Linked DNA regions of Homo sapiens: region 2 is linked to region 1. The links come from fine-mapping of genetic effects on gene expression. Tissue or cell type: whole blood. Region 1 holds a variant in brackets; the other region holds the start of a gene. All regions are shown on one strand. Distances are from middle to middle.

The links. PIP is the estimated chance that this variant, and not a neighbour inherited with it, causes the effect.
Region 2: it holds the start of CLN5, and the variant in region 1 is fine-mapped to the expression of CLN5 in whole blood (TOPMed, PIP above 0.99).

Annotation. Positions count from the first base shown.
Region 1 is chr13:77,421,750-77,429,859 of GRCh38, forward strand. LOC124903185 reads left to right here. Exons shown (of 3, transcript XM_047430828.1): 3 at 1,061-1,353. The coding sequence ends at 1,189. LOC124903186 (a long non-coding RNA gene) reads left to right here and starts at 5,847. Exons shown (of 4, transcript XR_007063828.1): 1 at 5,847-5,939. RefSeq lists an enhancer at 7,854-8,063. The variant A/G (reference allele first, on the strand shown) is at 4,018.
Region 2 is chr13:76,988,041-76,996,150 of GRCh38, forward strand. CLN5 (CLN5 lysosomal BMP synthase) reads left to right here and starts at 4,041. Exons shown (of 4, transcript NM_006493.4): 1 at 4,041-4,231; 2 at 7,023-7,188; 3 at 7,862-8,087. The coding sequence starts at 4,059. It also overlaps the pseudogene DHX9P1. RefSeq lists silencers at 3,375-3,464, 3,555-3,624, 4,085-4,324 and an enhancer at 4,346-5,545.

The DNA of each region.
Region 1 (8,110 bases):
ATGGCATTCGCAGTGACCTGGATGGAATTGGAGATTATTATTCTAAGTGAAGTAACTCAGGAATGGAAAACCAAGCATCGTATGTTTTCACTTATAAGTTGGAGCTAAGCTACGAGGATACAAAGGCATAAGAATGATACAATAGACTCTGAGGACTTGGGGGAAAGGATGGGAGGTGCTGAGAGATAAAAGACTATGCTGTACATTGGGTATAGTGTACACTGCTCGGGTGATGGGTGCACCCAAATCACAGAAATCACCACTAAAGAACTTATTCATGTAACCAAACACCACCTGTTCCCCAAAAACCTATTGAAATAAAAAAAGTGCAAGAAATTTACATGTGCCAGTGCTTTTTTTCACTTAATCTCTCTCTCTCTCAGCTGTTTTATTTCTAGGTCCTTAATTCTAATAATATGTGACTTCCTAACATTTCATTTGACTAAAAATTACAAAACTGATCTGAAATTCACCATAGTGGGGTTTTACCATGTGGGTAAAGTGGACCCACAGACTTAAAAATTGTAGAATCTGAGAGTAAGAAGCAACTTATGCAATCCTCTAATTTAGTTCTTTCATTTTTCAGAGAAGGAAACTGAGGCTCAGCGAAGTTACGTGATTTGCCTATAGTTACAGAGCTAGTAAAAAGTTTAAACTGTTAGATGAACTCCTATTTGCTACTCTACCCAGTGACAGAGAATACTGAATGCATCTATTTACTCAGACATATGAACTATAGTGACTAAAAACAGTTGTGATGTGTGATGTACATTGTTGGGGGTCAGAATATAATACACCAAAATGAAGGTCTCAGAGCAGCATGGAAGCAAAAGTTTTTCTCTGACTTTCTCTGGTCCTCCTGTCTCTGGCCCCCTCATACTCCCTTGAGGCTAGCCATAGAAACTAGAATCCCTCCTCCAAGGTGGGTCATAGAAAACCAGAACCCTTTATCCCAAAGCCAGCCATAAAAACCTAAAAATATTACTTTAACTTTACCTCCACCTTTCTGTGTAAAAACTTGTCATAAAGAAATTATCTGACCTACCTTGTTTGATTGTAGATTGCAAGAGCCCCCATTCTAGAGAGGGTCCTGTCCCATACCCAGAAGGAAGGAATGCTGCACAGAGGCCAAGAAGAATCCAGACAGACAGGCCTTGCCGGGCTTCCCCGCTCAGTCTGTTTGTTTTAGACCATGCCTTCTTTGTCCAGTCATATTTCTACAAGCCTGACCATACTTTGCTGAACCAAAGCATGAACATGGACAGTTTGCTCTATATCTTTGGGTCTTCATCCTGAAGGATCCTGTGTCACATATAAAACTATGATCAAATAAATTTGTATGCCTTCCTCCTATTAATCTGCCTTTTGTCAGTTGATTTTAAGTGAACCTTTGGAAAGCTAAAGGGAAGCTTTCCCTAGGTCCCTGTAACATGTTATGTTTTAGAGGTTTCAAAATTATTCAAATGCTTTTGTATGTTTTGAATATTTTCATGGCATGACACACGTTCGTGTGTGTGTGAAACTTTGCATAATTTTAGTAGTTTTAACTTTTGCTGTCATAAAAATAATTTAGTTTTATATTTAGGAAAATCTTAAAACTCTATGGTTAGTTGGTAAATAGTGATAAAAGAAAAAATTTCAGCCAAATTAAATTTAAAGGAGTTTGCTTGAACAATGAATGATTCACGAATCAGGCAGCCCCCAGAATCGCAGCAGATTCACAGAGACTCCAGTGCAGCCATGTGGTGGGAGAAGATTTATAGAACAAAAAGAGGGAAATGACATACAAAAATCAGCAACGAGGTACAGCAACGGCTGGACTGGTTACAGGTTGGCATTTGCCTTATTTGAACACAGTTTGAACACTTAGCAGCCTATGAGTGGTTGAAGTATGGCTGCTGGGATTGGCCACAGCTATTATTACAGGTGCATACTCCTAAATTAGGTTTTCAATCTTGTCTGACTATTAAGCTACATTACAGTTCATCTACAAGGACTCAAATATAGAAGTATGGAGTCCTTCTCAGGCTATATTTAGTTTGCTTTAACAATAGATACTGGTAGAAAGATTAAAGAGAGTCATAAAGTATGTCCACTTCATGCAGCTATAAGGTTGGACTAATTAGGCAAAGTAGATAATACATCTGAAAAATTCTGGCAAAAAATCAAAACAAAACAAAACAATCAAATTCACCATTTATTTTCCAAACCAAAATTTCTTTGGTTTTTGCTTATTTGTGTTTATACTTCTGTAAAATTCCTACTCAGAGTACCTAGTTGATCATAATCTCAGAATAAGTTATTAAACTTTATAGTCTGTACTTCCTACTGAGGTATAATCATTATATATATATCTGAAATTTAATGGTGTCACTTTCTCAGCAGTGCTATTGAAGTGATTAAGCTATTATATATCTAATTATTTTGAAATTAAAAATAAAGATTTTGTACAGATTAGGGGGTCTCACTGTGTTGCCCAAGCTGATCTTGAACTCCTGGGCTCACATAAACCTCCCACCTTGGCCTCCCAAAATGCTGAGATTGCAGATGTGAGCCATCATGCTCAGCCTTTTTTTTTTTTTTTGACATTTTAAAATTAATACACATTGTACATATTTATGGGGGTAGATGTGATATTTTGTTATGTGCATAGACTGTGTAATGATCAAGTCAGGGTTTTTGGGGTGCTTGTCACCTCCAATGTTTATCATTTCCAAGAGCTAGGAACATTTTAAGTGCTCTCTTCTAGTTATTTTGAAATATACAATACATTGTTAACTATAGTCACACTACTCTGCTGTTGAACATTAGAACTTATTCTATCTAGCTGTATGTTTGTACTCTTTAACCAACCTGTCTTTGTTACCCCCTTCCCACCACAGACACATTCTTCCCAGCCTCTGGTAATCATCATTCTACTCTCTATCTCTATGTGATCAACTTTTTTAGCTCCCACATGTGTGTGAGAAAATGTGATGTGTGTCTTTCTGTGCCTGGATCATTTCACTTAACATAATGACCTCCAGTTCCACCCATGTTGCTGCAAGTGACATGATTTCATTCTTTTCATGGCTGAATAGTATTCCATTGTGGTGTATATATACTATATTTCCTATATCTATTTGTCCATTGATGGATACTTAGGTTGATTCCATATCTTTGCTATTGTAAACAGAGCTGTGATAAGCATGCGAGTGGAGGTATCCCTTTGGTATACTGATTTCTTTTCCTTTGGATAAATATCCAATGGTGGGGTTGCTGGATTATATAATAGTTCTGTTTTTTGTTTTTTTGAGTAATTGCCATACTGTTTTCCATAATGGCTATACTAATTTACTAATATTTAATGATATCTCACTGTGGTTTTGATTTGCATTTCCCTGATTATTAGGGATGTTGAGTATTTCTCATATACCTGTTGACCATTAAATTATGTTTTAATATGATATCTCTGTAAAGGTTAAGTACTTTTTAGGACATGGACCTGGAATGATTGCCAGAATTCATCGTTTGAATGGAATTAATTTTCAAATTTAGCAGGCATATACTTTCCATTTCTCCATCCTACTAAATAAATTAAAAGTTAATTTACCAGGGTGGTGGGCTTGACAGGAACAGGGAACAAGTTTTACTTTCATTTTCTGGGACCACTCCTGAGCTTGATATGCCTTTTAAACACTGACCCTCTGCCTGCCTATCTGCTTTTACTTATACTCACCTTGGAGCAGGTTCTCTTCTCTACTTCCTTTTCTGGGCAGTCTCCAGGGCGGCTTTAGCCTCTTCACTTGCTTCTGTTACAGCATGACTAACCCAGAGCTTGCCCAAAATGTGGTAGTCTGATGAATGGTCCTCCAAAGATGTCCATGGTCCTAATCACTGGGATCTGTGAGTATATTACTTTTTATGGTAAAAGGGATTAGCAGCTATGGTTAAGTTAAGGGTTTAGAGATGAGGAGATTATCCAGATAGGCTTAACGTCATCACAAGGTTCTTTATAAGCAGAAGTCAGGAGGATCA[A/G]AGTCAAAAAAAGAAGATGTGATGACAAAACCAGAGGTTGGAGGGATGTCCTTTGAAGATGGGAAAGGGGCCAGGAGCTACGGAATGTAGGCAGCTTCTACCAACTGGAAAAGCGAAGGAAACAGATTCTTCCCTGAGCCTCTGGGAGGCAGCAGTCCCGATAAGACCTGGATTTTAGACTTCTGACCTCCACAACTGTAGGAGAGTAATTTGTGTTATTTCAAGTTACTCTATTTATGGTAACTTGTTATAGCAGCAGTAGGGAACTCATCCAATTACCATATATATAAAAGCTCTTTCAAGATCATAATACCATGTTAGGTATTATTCGTAGTAGAATATCATAATACTTACAAGTCCTTTTCCTTAATATTGTATTTAAAAATTAAATGTATTTTTAAAAAATGTATTTCAAAGCTTGCTTAAAAATATTCTTGTAGACAAATATTGTACTATTTCTGTATTTTAAAATTAATTTGTTCAGTTTATACTTATTAAACATCTATTATGTGCAAAAGAGTATGTTGCAGAGGACACAGAAATGTTTAGGACATGGACTTTAATTCCAAGGATCTCATAAGGTTGACCTCTAGAAGCTATACTATTGCATAAATAACTGTTGCCTGGGTTGGCATACTGTATTAGCTAGCTACGGCTGCATAATAAAGTACCACAGACTGGGGGGCTCAGACAACAGTAATTTATTTTCCCACAATTCTGGAAGCTAGAAGTCCAAGATCAAGGTGTTGTGAAAGGAAAATAAATCTTAGGACCCCCCAAAATCACCAAGCCAAGGGAAAAGTCAAGCTGGGAACTACCTCAGGCAAACCTGCCTCCTATTTTATTCCTAGATAAGATAGCTAAAAAGGTAAAAGAGCTCCATACTTCCCTCACAATTTTCCTATAAGGAATTCTTCATGGGGCTCAAGATTTTTGCCCTAACGCAGTTCTGCTGAATTTCACCCTGGCAATGTAAACGGATAGCTTATCTCCACCGATGCAGGACATAAAGTCACCCCTCTGCTTACCTGAAACAAATGCACATCTATCTGATTTCTTCCTCTACCCTATTGTTTATGTAAAAATGCAGAATCACTGAGCCAGACTAAATTGTGTATTCAGTGGAAGGCTGACCAAGGACTCAAAAGAATGCAACTTCTTCTCTCTTATCTACCTATGACCTGGAAATCTCTGCTTCAAGTTGTTGCACCTTATGGGACCGAACCAATTTACATCTTACACATATTGATTGATGTCTCTTGTCTCTCTAAAATGTGTAAAAGCAAGCTGTACCCTGACCACCTTAGCACATTGTCAGGACCTCCTGAGGTTGTGTCACATGCGTGTCCTTAACCGTGACAAAATAAACTTGATAAATTGGTTGAGACCTGTCTCAGATATTTTGGGTTCACAGGATTGATTTCTTCTAAGCTCTGTCTCTCCTTTGCTTATAATGTGTTTCCTCCTTTGTTTTTACTTGGTCTTCCCTTTGTGCCTGTGTCCTACTTTTTTTTTTTTTTTGAGATGAAGTCTTGCTCTTTTCCCCCAGGCTGGAGTGCAATGGCGCAATCTCAGCTCACTGCAACCTTCACCTCCTGGGTTCAAGCGATTCTCCTGCCTCAGGCTCCTGAGTAGCTGGGATTACAACCATGTGCCACCATGCCCAGCTAATTTTTGTGTTTTTAGTAGAGATGGGGTTTCACCATGTTGGCCAGGCTGGTCTTGAACTCCTGACCTCAGGTGATCTGCCCGCCTCGGCCTCCCAAAGTGCTGGATTACAGGCTTGAGCCACTGTGCCCGGCCCTATTCTCCTCTTCTTATAAGGATACCAGCCATATTGGGTTACAACCCACCCTCATGACCTCATTCAAACTTAATTACCTCCATGAGGATCGCATCTCCAAATACAATCACATTCCAAGGTAAGGGGGTTGAGATTTCAATATAAAAATTGGGGGAGAACACAGTTCAGCCCATAACACATGCTAAGTGTGTGCTTTGGGAAAATTCAGAGAAGAGTGAGCTACTCTAGATATTGCTAATAGTAGAATTCACTCACAAATCAACTGATTAACAATGACATACTTGCCATGTGTGGTTACTGATAATCCAAGAATGAGCTATCCTTCCCAGAATGTACGGTGACAAATGGAGGAATCCTGATGAAGACATATAGAAACAGTAAATAAAATGATGGAACACATTTATGTCTTCATGAAAAGCACTTAGAACCAAGTACAGAAATTCTTTGGTGCAGTTGTTCAATTCCATTCTCAGGTGACAAACAAAGCCAACAGCTATGAGCCTTCTGATGATTCTGCCCTTTTGAAGTAACTAAGTTTGCACAATGACATTTACTATACTTTTAGGAACTGGCATGCCTAGGCTTAATGCATCTTTGTTGAGACAAAAAAAAAAGTTATGGTTTCTATAAGAGAATCTGTTCCAGGAGAAAGAGAATGACATATTGGATATGTTAGATAAGCAAAATATGCTAAGTTCCTTGGGGTCCTAATTAACATATTCCAGAGAAAAGTCCCACCCTAAAGTTTAGGTTCAATTATCAGAGGTCAAAATGTAATTCTGTTAGGAAAGCAGACAATGTTCACAGCAATCCTTTCATGTCCTTATGAACAAAAATGAAAATGTTCAAGTTGGTGGGAACTCATAGGAGTTAGTAATTTAATCAACATACTTTGGCCCATCATTGGGCCAAATTCTAGTGCTCTAATGCTGTAGATGGAAATATGTGGACAAAGGACTGAGCAAGATAAGATGGTCATTTAAGATAACTCATTCATTATAAGAAAATATAAAAGTAACAAAACACCATGTAAGAGAGTTTGAAGAAAAGATGAATATGATCTTTGATTTTCTAGGCACAGAAAAATAATGAAGAAATTCCAGTTTTAGGTTATTCTTTTTTTGTGCAAGTATCTGCTAATTACATATCTTATGCATTTCTCATTATCTATCATTTCAGACAAATTGTGCCTATAGACAATTTCAAAATAAATGTTTTCATACAAAGAAATAAAATGGGAGAATGGGAGCATGCCTAGTAATGACAGTTAAAATTCTGTCTTTTCCAAAATAGTACTGTTTCCATTGTAGAGTAACTGAATTCAATTATCTAAACTGTGTGTTTTTGTTAGCAACATGTGAATTTATTTAATGGTAGTGTGCAATTTTTAGTAGGAGTTACTGGAATTTTTCTAAGAACGTTGATTCACCTCAGATCACATTGTTTTTCAGATACAGTCTGTTGGATTTTAACAAAAACCCCATAGCTAATCACAGGTGAAAATAATGATACCATGTAACTATTTTCATTGATGGTGTTGGTTTTTGTCTTAGATCTAGCACAACAATGTGTTTCTTAGCAAACACTCCCTGTATTCAAGCAGACATTGTCACACACTTAGAGGAAGAGATGAAAAAGGCTGTATAGGACCATCCATAAAGTACAGAGGGGATACTTGCAGACCAGTAACCAACTTCTACGTTAGTTAAATTGAAAGCAATTTATATCATAACTTGAGTGAGTGAGGTTGGAAAAAATGTTCTTGACAATGAAGATGCTTAAACTTAAATAGGGGAGATTTTACAGAGAGAGGATGAGTAACCCAGAGTCTCAAGGCCCAGATATATTTAGCAGATAGGGCCAATTTTGTGATTCTGTGCCAGAGAGATGGGGAGGCTTTCTAAAGCGGATCTTAAGTGAAGTCAAGAGATGTAGAAAAAAGGGAAGAGAAACCTGAAGGGCAGTTTCTTATCACTTTAGTTGTATTAGTCCTTCTTCATGCTGCTGGTAAAGACATACCCGAGACTGGGCAATGTACAAAAGAAACAGGTTTAATGGACTCACAGTTCTACTTGGCTGGGGAGGCCTCACAAACATGGCAGGAGGTGAAAGACCTGTCTCACATGGCGGTACACAAGAAAAGAGAGCTTGTGCAGGGAAACTCCCCTTTATAAAACCATCATATCTCATAAGACGTAGTCACCATCATGAGAATAGCATGGGAAAGACCTGCCCCCATGATTCAATTACCTCCCACTGGGTCCCTCCCACAACACGGAACTGTGGGAG
Region 2 (8,110 bases), 430 kb before region 1:
AGTTGCTTCTCTTTGCCTCCAAGAAAGTCCAATCTGATGGGCAGATTGTGCTTGCAGATGACTGGATTAAACTGCAAATATCTCATGAAGCTGCTGCCTGCATCACCGCTCTCCAGGCAGCCACTGAGGCTCTGGTTGTTGAAGTAACCAAACAACCTGCTATCATCAGCCAGTTGGACCCCGTAAATGAAAGTATACTGAACATGATCCGTCAAATCTCTAGACCCTCAGCTGCTGATATCAACCTTATGATTGGCAGTACATGGTATGGAGATGGTCCAGGTCCTCCTAAGATGGCCCAATATGACAATGGAAGCGGATATAGAAGGGGAGGTTCTAGTTATGGCAGTGAAGGCTATGGCAGTGGCTATAGCAGTGGAGGCTATCGTAGCGGAGGCTATGGTGGCAGCTCCAGCTCCTGTCGGGCAGGATATGGTGCAGGTGTTGGTGGAGGCTATAGAGAAGTTTCCTGAGGTGGCTATAGAGGCAACTCTGGAGGAGATTACAGAGGGCCTAGTAGAGGCTACAGATGATCTGGGGGATTCCAGCGAGGAGGTGGTAGGGGGGCCTATGGAACTGGCTACTTTGGACAAGGAAGAGAAGGTGGCATCTGTTAAGGCTTGGTTATGTCAGTTCCTGTGTGTAGACAGTAAGAAAAAAAAAGCCATGCTATGTGTGACATTTTTTTCCAATGTTTATTTCCCACCAAAAAGTAAATGCATTTTAACCCATTCTGTGGTTCACTGTAGCTTAAGGAAACCAAGCATATAGATGCATTAGTGATTTTGTTTATATTATGTAAAATGTAACGATCTATCTTAGAAATACCACAGTTTGTATTTTTCTTTAAGGAGTAAAGATTTGTCTTTAAAAATAACTTGATATTTTCCTGGCTTTCATTTAATACAATGGAAAATAAAGTATTACACGAAAAAAAAATTTTTTCTTAGAGACAGTATCTCATTATGTTACCCAGGCTGAAGTGCAGTGGCTATTCACAGGCACGATTATAGCTCACTATAGCCTCAAAGTCCTGGGTTCAAGCCTCCTGAGTAGCTAGAACTTCAGGTACATGCCACCTTGCCTGGCTTCCTGCTTTCTTATTCACTAAGAAACTTTGTTCTCTAAAATCATAGATTAGAGACAACTTCGTGTTTGAAATTACATCAGTAACAATAAAATATCCCACCTTTGCTTGAAGGACCTCAGTCATTCCACACAGAGAATTGGCCTCAATTTACAACCCAGATGTCAAGCTTCTGATAAGGGGTTTCCAGACACAAAACTCCATCGCTATTTTAACTTCATAGTCTCCAAGGAAATAGGCCCTTCATCCACTTTGCAGTCTAGACCTAGAGCCTGTGTGTTGATGGCAGCAGCAGGCCGTCTGGAGCAGCCACTACCATCATTGACATACAGCCTTGTTTTGCTTTGAGTCTACCAAAATACTGCTTATTTAAATTTCATCTCAACTCCACACTTCCCCAGAATCCTATCACTCTATCTGGGGAGATGCCATGTGGTCCAGGCAGTCTTAGGCTGAATGGGCAAGGATCCAAGGGAAACCAATTAGATTGAAATTAGTTCTGTCTGTGGGCCCTCAAGATTTAAAAGCCATGGACAAGGGGGAAGCAACCAGTATCGACCAGCGATAATCTATGAGCACCTTCAGCTTGGGGTGTGGGGTCATAGACAAAAAGAATGGGGTTTAATCAGTGTTCCCATCCAAGGCAAAACCAGACCAGAAGAATGGGAGCTACCAGGAGGCTGAGTTAAGACCAATACTAGGGCCAGGCATGGTGACTACAGCCTGTAATCCCAGCACTTTTGGAGGCCGAGGCAGGTGGATTACTTGAGGTCAGGAGTTCGAGACCAGCCTGGCCAACATGGTGAAACCTCGTCTCTACCAAAAAAAAAAAAAAAAATTACAACTGGCACACACTTGTACCCAGCCACTAGGGAGGCTGAGGCAGGAGAATTGCTTGAACCCGGGAGGCGGAGGTTGCAGTGAGCCGAAATCACATCACTGCACTCCAGGCTGGGTGACAGAAGGAGACTCCGTCTCCAAAAAAATAAAAAATAAAAACCAATACTAGGAAGTGCTTTCTTACCATGAAAGCTCCCTGCACACAGAATGAAGAGACAGATGGCAGAAGCAAGACCAGAGGCCTCCACCACTGAACAAGGTCAACCTGAATTTGTTTTTGTAGCTCTGGGAAGTCCTGAACTGAATGGGAGGTTCTACTGTGGCCCTCTACTAACAGTAGATGGAACCTGGAACCATCTACTGTTAATTGTCCTTTTAGTAGCCAAGACATGAAGTACCTATCTCCCTTCTTTGTATTTGGTGAAAAGATTTGAACTCGAGCCATCTCTGCTAAAGGCATGACTTTAGTCACCCCACTGCAGTTGCTTCTCTTTGCCTCCAAGAAAGTCCAATCTGATGGGCAGATTGTGCTTGCAGATGACTGGATTAAACTGCAAATATCTCATGAAGCTGCTGCCTGCATCACCGCTCTCCAGGCAGCCACGGAGGCTCTGGTTGTTGAGGCCATCTACTGTGGCCCTCATACATCATACTGTGTATGGTTCCAGGATTTGTAAATGCTCTAATCAATGTTTTTTTTTTTTTTTAAAGCTGTTCCTGCTGATTGCTTTTTAAGCTAGGCTCAAGTGTGGGGCCACGGAATCCTTCAGGTGCCCTTCAAATCAGACATTACATTTCAGCTCTCAGGGCTAGAATGCTTCCCCCTCTTATCTTGGGCAGGTCTTTGAAGAAGCCAGTTTAGCCTTGGTAATTTTGAATTTGGCCATAGTATACGGAGGAGAGCTAGGTAGCTATCAAAACGCTTAGACAAACGTATGGTAAAATGCAGCCCAGCCTGAACCTCCGCAAAACCCCCAAACCTGGAGCAGCAAGTGGGCAAAGGAGTGTGTGTTTGGGGCAGGGTACTGAGTCCCATATGTAATCAAGAGACCTGGAGGGCCCAAGGAAGTCAGTGACACCCCCACAAGCTACATATCCTCCAATGGATTGTGGTGGTCATCTCCGGCTACCGAAGCCACCTTGCTTATTCCCATAGGCTTACAAACATTATGATGCTTCACACGAGTTGTGGGTGAAGTGAAGGAATTGGAAAGTCCCGGTCTAAGGCCCTGCAAAACTGCTGTCTGGTAAAAACAAGTGACTATGGCAAGGCCCTGAATGTACTACGTATAGACTTAAGTCAGTATTTGTGCCTAACAGCAAAGCATGCCACAAGAGGCTCCTCAAAAGCCGGGTAATTGATGCCATTGTTTTCTTGACCTAGTTGAAGAGTCAAAGAAGAGAAGGTGATGCAGAAACTTCTTTCCAGTGAAGTGACAGATCCAAGCAAGGAACACCTGCCTGTGAGGGGAGCGGTAGGGGAGGGGGTAGATTCGGCAGCACTCGGGTAGTGGCAGGGACCACATATTGTCGGTGTTAACCACTGTTATCACTGGCCCAGGTCGAGTGAGGACGAGTCATTTCCCCACTAAGCACTTGGGGAGTGGCAGGGACCACATATTGTCAGTGTTAACCACTGTTATGACTGGCCCAGGTCGGGTGACGACGAGCCATTTCCGCACTATTGTCCCTTCTTCCTCACTGCACCCCCAGCCCTGCACCCTCAGCTCCAAATACACATTCTCGTTCACTCAACGTTTGTTGACACCTAGCGTGGGCCCTGTGGGATGGGGTAAAAGTTCGGTGTTGGGAGGAGCCCCGGTGACAGATTTTTGGTTTTGGTGGTGGCTTTTGGGCAAGGACAGGTCAATTCATAAAAGATGACGCCCCAGGTCTGGATCGAATTCTCCTGGGAGCCAGACCAAAGCACCTTCCTGGACTGCAAAGTGTGGAAGCCGCCGCGGGCCGGGCGCGGGGAGGTGTCATGCGCCGGAACCTGCGCTTGGGGCCAAGCTCTGGAGCTGACGCGCAGGGGCAAGGCGCCCCGCGTCCCGGACTGGCGGCTCCGCGCATGCTCCTCCCACCGGCGTCGCAGGCCTCGAGAGGCTCCGGAAGTACTGGGTGCAGCCTGATGGCGCAGGAGGTAGACACGGCACAGGGCGCCGAGATGCGGCGGGGCGCGGGCGCGGCTCGGGGACGCGCTTCCTGGTGCTGGGCCCTGGCGCTGCTTTGGCTCGCGGTGGTTCCGGGCTGGTCCCGGGTCTCGGGCATCCCCTCCCGGCGCCACTGGCCGGTGCCCTACAAGTGAGTGCGGCGGCGCGCGCACTGTCGGGGTTGGGGTCGGCGTTGACGATGGGGGATGGGGTGCTGGGGCGGGGACCCCTGCTCACCGTGGTTTGTGTCGGGTCACGAGATGGTGCGGGGACAGCGCCGGGTGACGCTCGGAGCGCACTTGAGAGCAAAGTTGAGGACTGGGGAGTCGCAGCCGCTCGTTACGTGCAGCCCTGGGACCTTTCGTCCCCTCTGGTCACTTGCGGCAGACTCAGGACAGTCCTGAATCGTGGAAGAAGAAAAGGAGAGTAATGTTATTTAATGGAGGGACTTCTGGGTACAAGTAGCTGATTTCTTGAGTAGTTTAAAAACACTGTCTATCGCATTTATTTATATCATGCACTGTCGTTAGTTATTACCGCGGAACATTTGGTACAATTTACTGGGCGACCAACTCGCTCTGGTTTGAACCTGATCAGAACCTGATCCGAAGTCCTTATTGGGACTTCCCAGTTTTGCCCTCAAAAGTCGCGCATCCCGGGAATCCCCGTCTCCTGCAGTCCTGGTTAGACCGGGAAGATTGTCACCGCTTTTGTCCAGTCTTCAGCCTGGAGGTAGGACGCCGGTCCTAAGTCGGGGACAGAGCCCGCACACCTGGGAGGTCGATTCCAGCCTTTGACAGAGAAGACACAGCCTCCGGCGGTCAGAGATAGCTAAACACAGAGAAAGAAAACATGGTGTCAACATCAGGCAGGAGAAAGACCAGCAGTTTTTGAAAACAGCTATTTTTCTTTAAACCAAAAGCATCATTGGACATAATTTTAACTTACTAGCATAAGTAATCAACAGCTAAAACTGCACACAACAAACCTGAAAAAAACAGCTATTTTGTATGACAGTATGAGTGGGAAGGAGTTCTGCCTGCTGCGGGTCAAATCTGGCTCTGTCATCACCAGGGATCTTGGGAAAGTTACTCAGAATCTCTGTGCCCACATGCCCTGAGTCAAAAAATAGGAATAGTGGTAGCACGTACCTCATAGGTTTGCTGGAAGGATTAAATCTAGTAAAATGCCAGCTGTTGTCAAACCTAGATAGTGTATTCTGCTCACTGAAATGTTTACAACACTTTTTTGTTTTGTGTGATATACTACGTGGAAAGAGAAGTTTGTGGTTGAAGCTAGTTTTCTGGAAAATGTTAATAATAAAATGTTTGTAAGAAGTCAAAATTACTCAATAGAACAAGAATTGTAAATCCAAACGATTTGATTTAACATTAGGGCAAGGTGTTGACTATGGCTTTTTAGTGGATTTTTTTTTTAAGTCTCAGATATTAAGTACGTGCTCCCATCTAATTCCCTCAATTGAATATAATATTTAAGTTTATTAAGTTCACACTTAAATTACCTTTGAACTAAAATAGATTTTGCTGTGTCAGTGAAATCTCCATGTGATTATGTATTTGTTTAAACCAGGTAAGTGCCTATAAAACACTGTACCCAAGTAGCAGAAACTTTTGGGAGCGTCGTTAATAGTTTCGATTAGCATAAAGATTTTAACTTCTTAAGTTAAAATAGAAATTTTTGTTGATTTGTTAAGATTTGTTAGATCTGGCTACAACCTTGGGGATCTAGGATTCTTAGATAGAAGCTGTTGTCGCCACCACTTCTTTCTTTCCCAGTGCCAGATTATAGGTGACCAGTGTGTCTGTTGAGCTGAATTCAGCTGCAGTGCCCCTCGAGTCCTATTGCTGTGGCCTTCTCCGGTCTTCTTTTCTTGCCTGCATTGTTGAGGTCACCTTCTAACTGATCTCTCATGTTTTATTTGGCCTCTCTCCATACCCTCTTTTAATTCGTGAAATAAGGTTTACTTTATAGCAAATTCAGTCCTGTCAGATCTGCTACTTAACATCCTTTAAGTTTAGCCCTCCCCAATTATAAGGCAGGGAATTCCATGCACATTCTCCTAGTGACAAAATGACAGCCCCTGCCAGTCTCTTCCGTCTCCATTCCTGCGTCGAGGCCTGAAATCCAGTCTTCCGTACCTACCGGAGACCAAATGTGCCAGGCTTGTCTTACAATACTTAACATTTCCTCTGCCTTTCTGTCTTAACCTTCTAATCAACTACATTAAAAACCTAGGCCCGGCCTTCATCTCTTTCTTTGCCCTCCCCACCCCATTCATCCCATACCTGGTTAACAATGATTTGTCCTTCCTGTGTGCCCATAGGACTCATTCCTTTAGTCTAGCACATACCACACTCATTACTTGTTCAGTGTCTTTCCAGCTCCCACCCACAGTTCCATGAGAAAGGGAACAGTGTTTTAATTTTTGTTTCCCTCCTTCTTACTATAGTTCACTATATATGTAGTGGAGCCTCAATAAATATTGGTTGAATGAATGTTAATTCGTAAGTAAATATAAAATGTATTCTGTTACTCATAATTATCTGAATAATCTTAATGTATGGACTGTTTGTAAAATTGAACACATTGGAAAAATGTTCATTTATTCTGTAAACATTTGCAAATGTCTACTATGATCTGGAGCTATAAAAATTTTAAGACAAAATTCCTGTCTTCAAAATTTTCACAGTGGGATCAGGGAACAGGGAAGCCCGTATTTATCAGAGTGCTTTTAGTTTATCATTTGCTATTAAAAACATTATTGGAAGTTTGTTCACAAGATAACAAAATGTGTGTTTATATTTATTAACTATGGTCCGACCTTTGAATGGTCCCCTAAAAATGTTACTGGATTCTAAAAGACGTGAGAAGAATCAGATTCATTTTAGAATCTAAGTAGATGGTTTCTTTTTCTTTATTAGGCGCTTTGACTTCCGTCCAAAACCTGATCCTTATTGTCAAGCTAAGTATACTTTCTGTCCAACTGGCTCACCTATCCCAGTTATGGAGGGTGATGATGACATTGAAGTTTTTCGATTACAAGCCCCAGTATGGGAATTTAAATATGGAGACCTCCTGGGACACTTGGTAAGGATGCATCTTGGTCTTATAACTTTGGTTAATTCAATGATTTGGTTATTAAGTTGATTTTTAAGGAGTAATCACTATTTAGATGGCTGACTTTAGATCATGTTGGTGTTTGTCTTAGTACATTTAAAATGAGTAGTCAAAAATAGTTACTATCAGATTTTGTAATCTTGACAACAACAAATGTAATCACCATTATCCATTGTAATATTATGAATCTGAAACCAGCTCCTGTACCTAGCTCCTGGAAGGTGAGAAGAGGCCCAGAAGTGGCAGGGCAGGCAGGTAACACCTCTTGATTTCCATACTCTGTTGTAGTCACTTTTCCAGGTTAACCCATCACCATGTGAGGTCTGTAGAGCTGCTTCCAGAGACTGGCATGGGGGCTCCTCACACTTATTCTAAGCTCTAAGGAAATTATCAGCTTGTCCACATAACATGCAGGCCTCCTATTTGAGATGAGCCAAATAGGGGTGTAGTGGCCAAAGCTGGGGTGGATGAGGGCCTGGAGTTTGGGGCCACAGAGTGGATATGACAGTAGCAGCATGGAAGAACAGCTGAACAGTTGTTCTACTTGATATGCATTTGTGATGTGCCACATTTTCTCCTATCAGGTTACCTGGACCCATGGTTGTGTCACAGTTGCTTTTATACATGTACTGTCTTTACACAGAAAATTATGCATGATGCCATTGGATTCAGAAGTACATTAACTGGCAAGAACTACACAATGGAATGGTATGAACTTTTCCAACTTGGCAACTGTACATTTCCCCATCTCCGACCTGAAATGGATGCCCCTTTCTGGTGTAATCAAGGCGCTGCCTGCTTTTTTGAGGGAATTGATGATGTTCACTGGAAGGAAAATGGGACATTAGTTCAAGTAGCAACTATATCAGGTAAGTTGTGAAAATATAGCAAT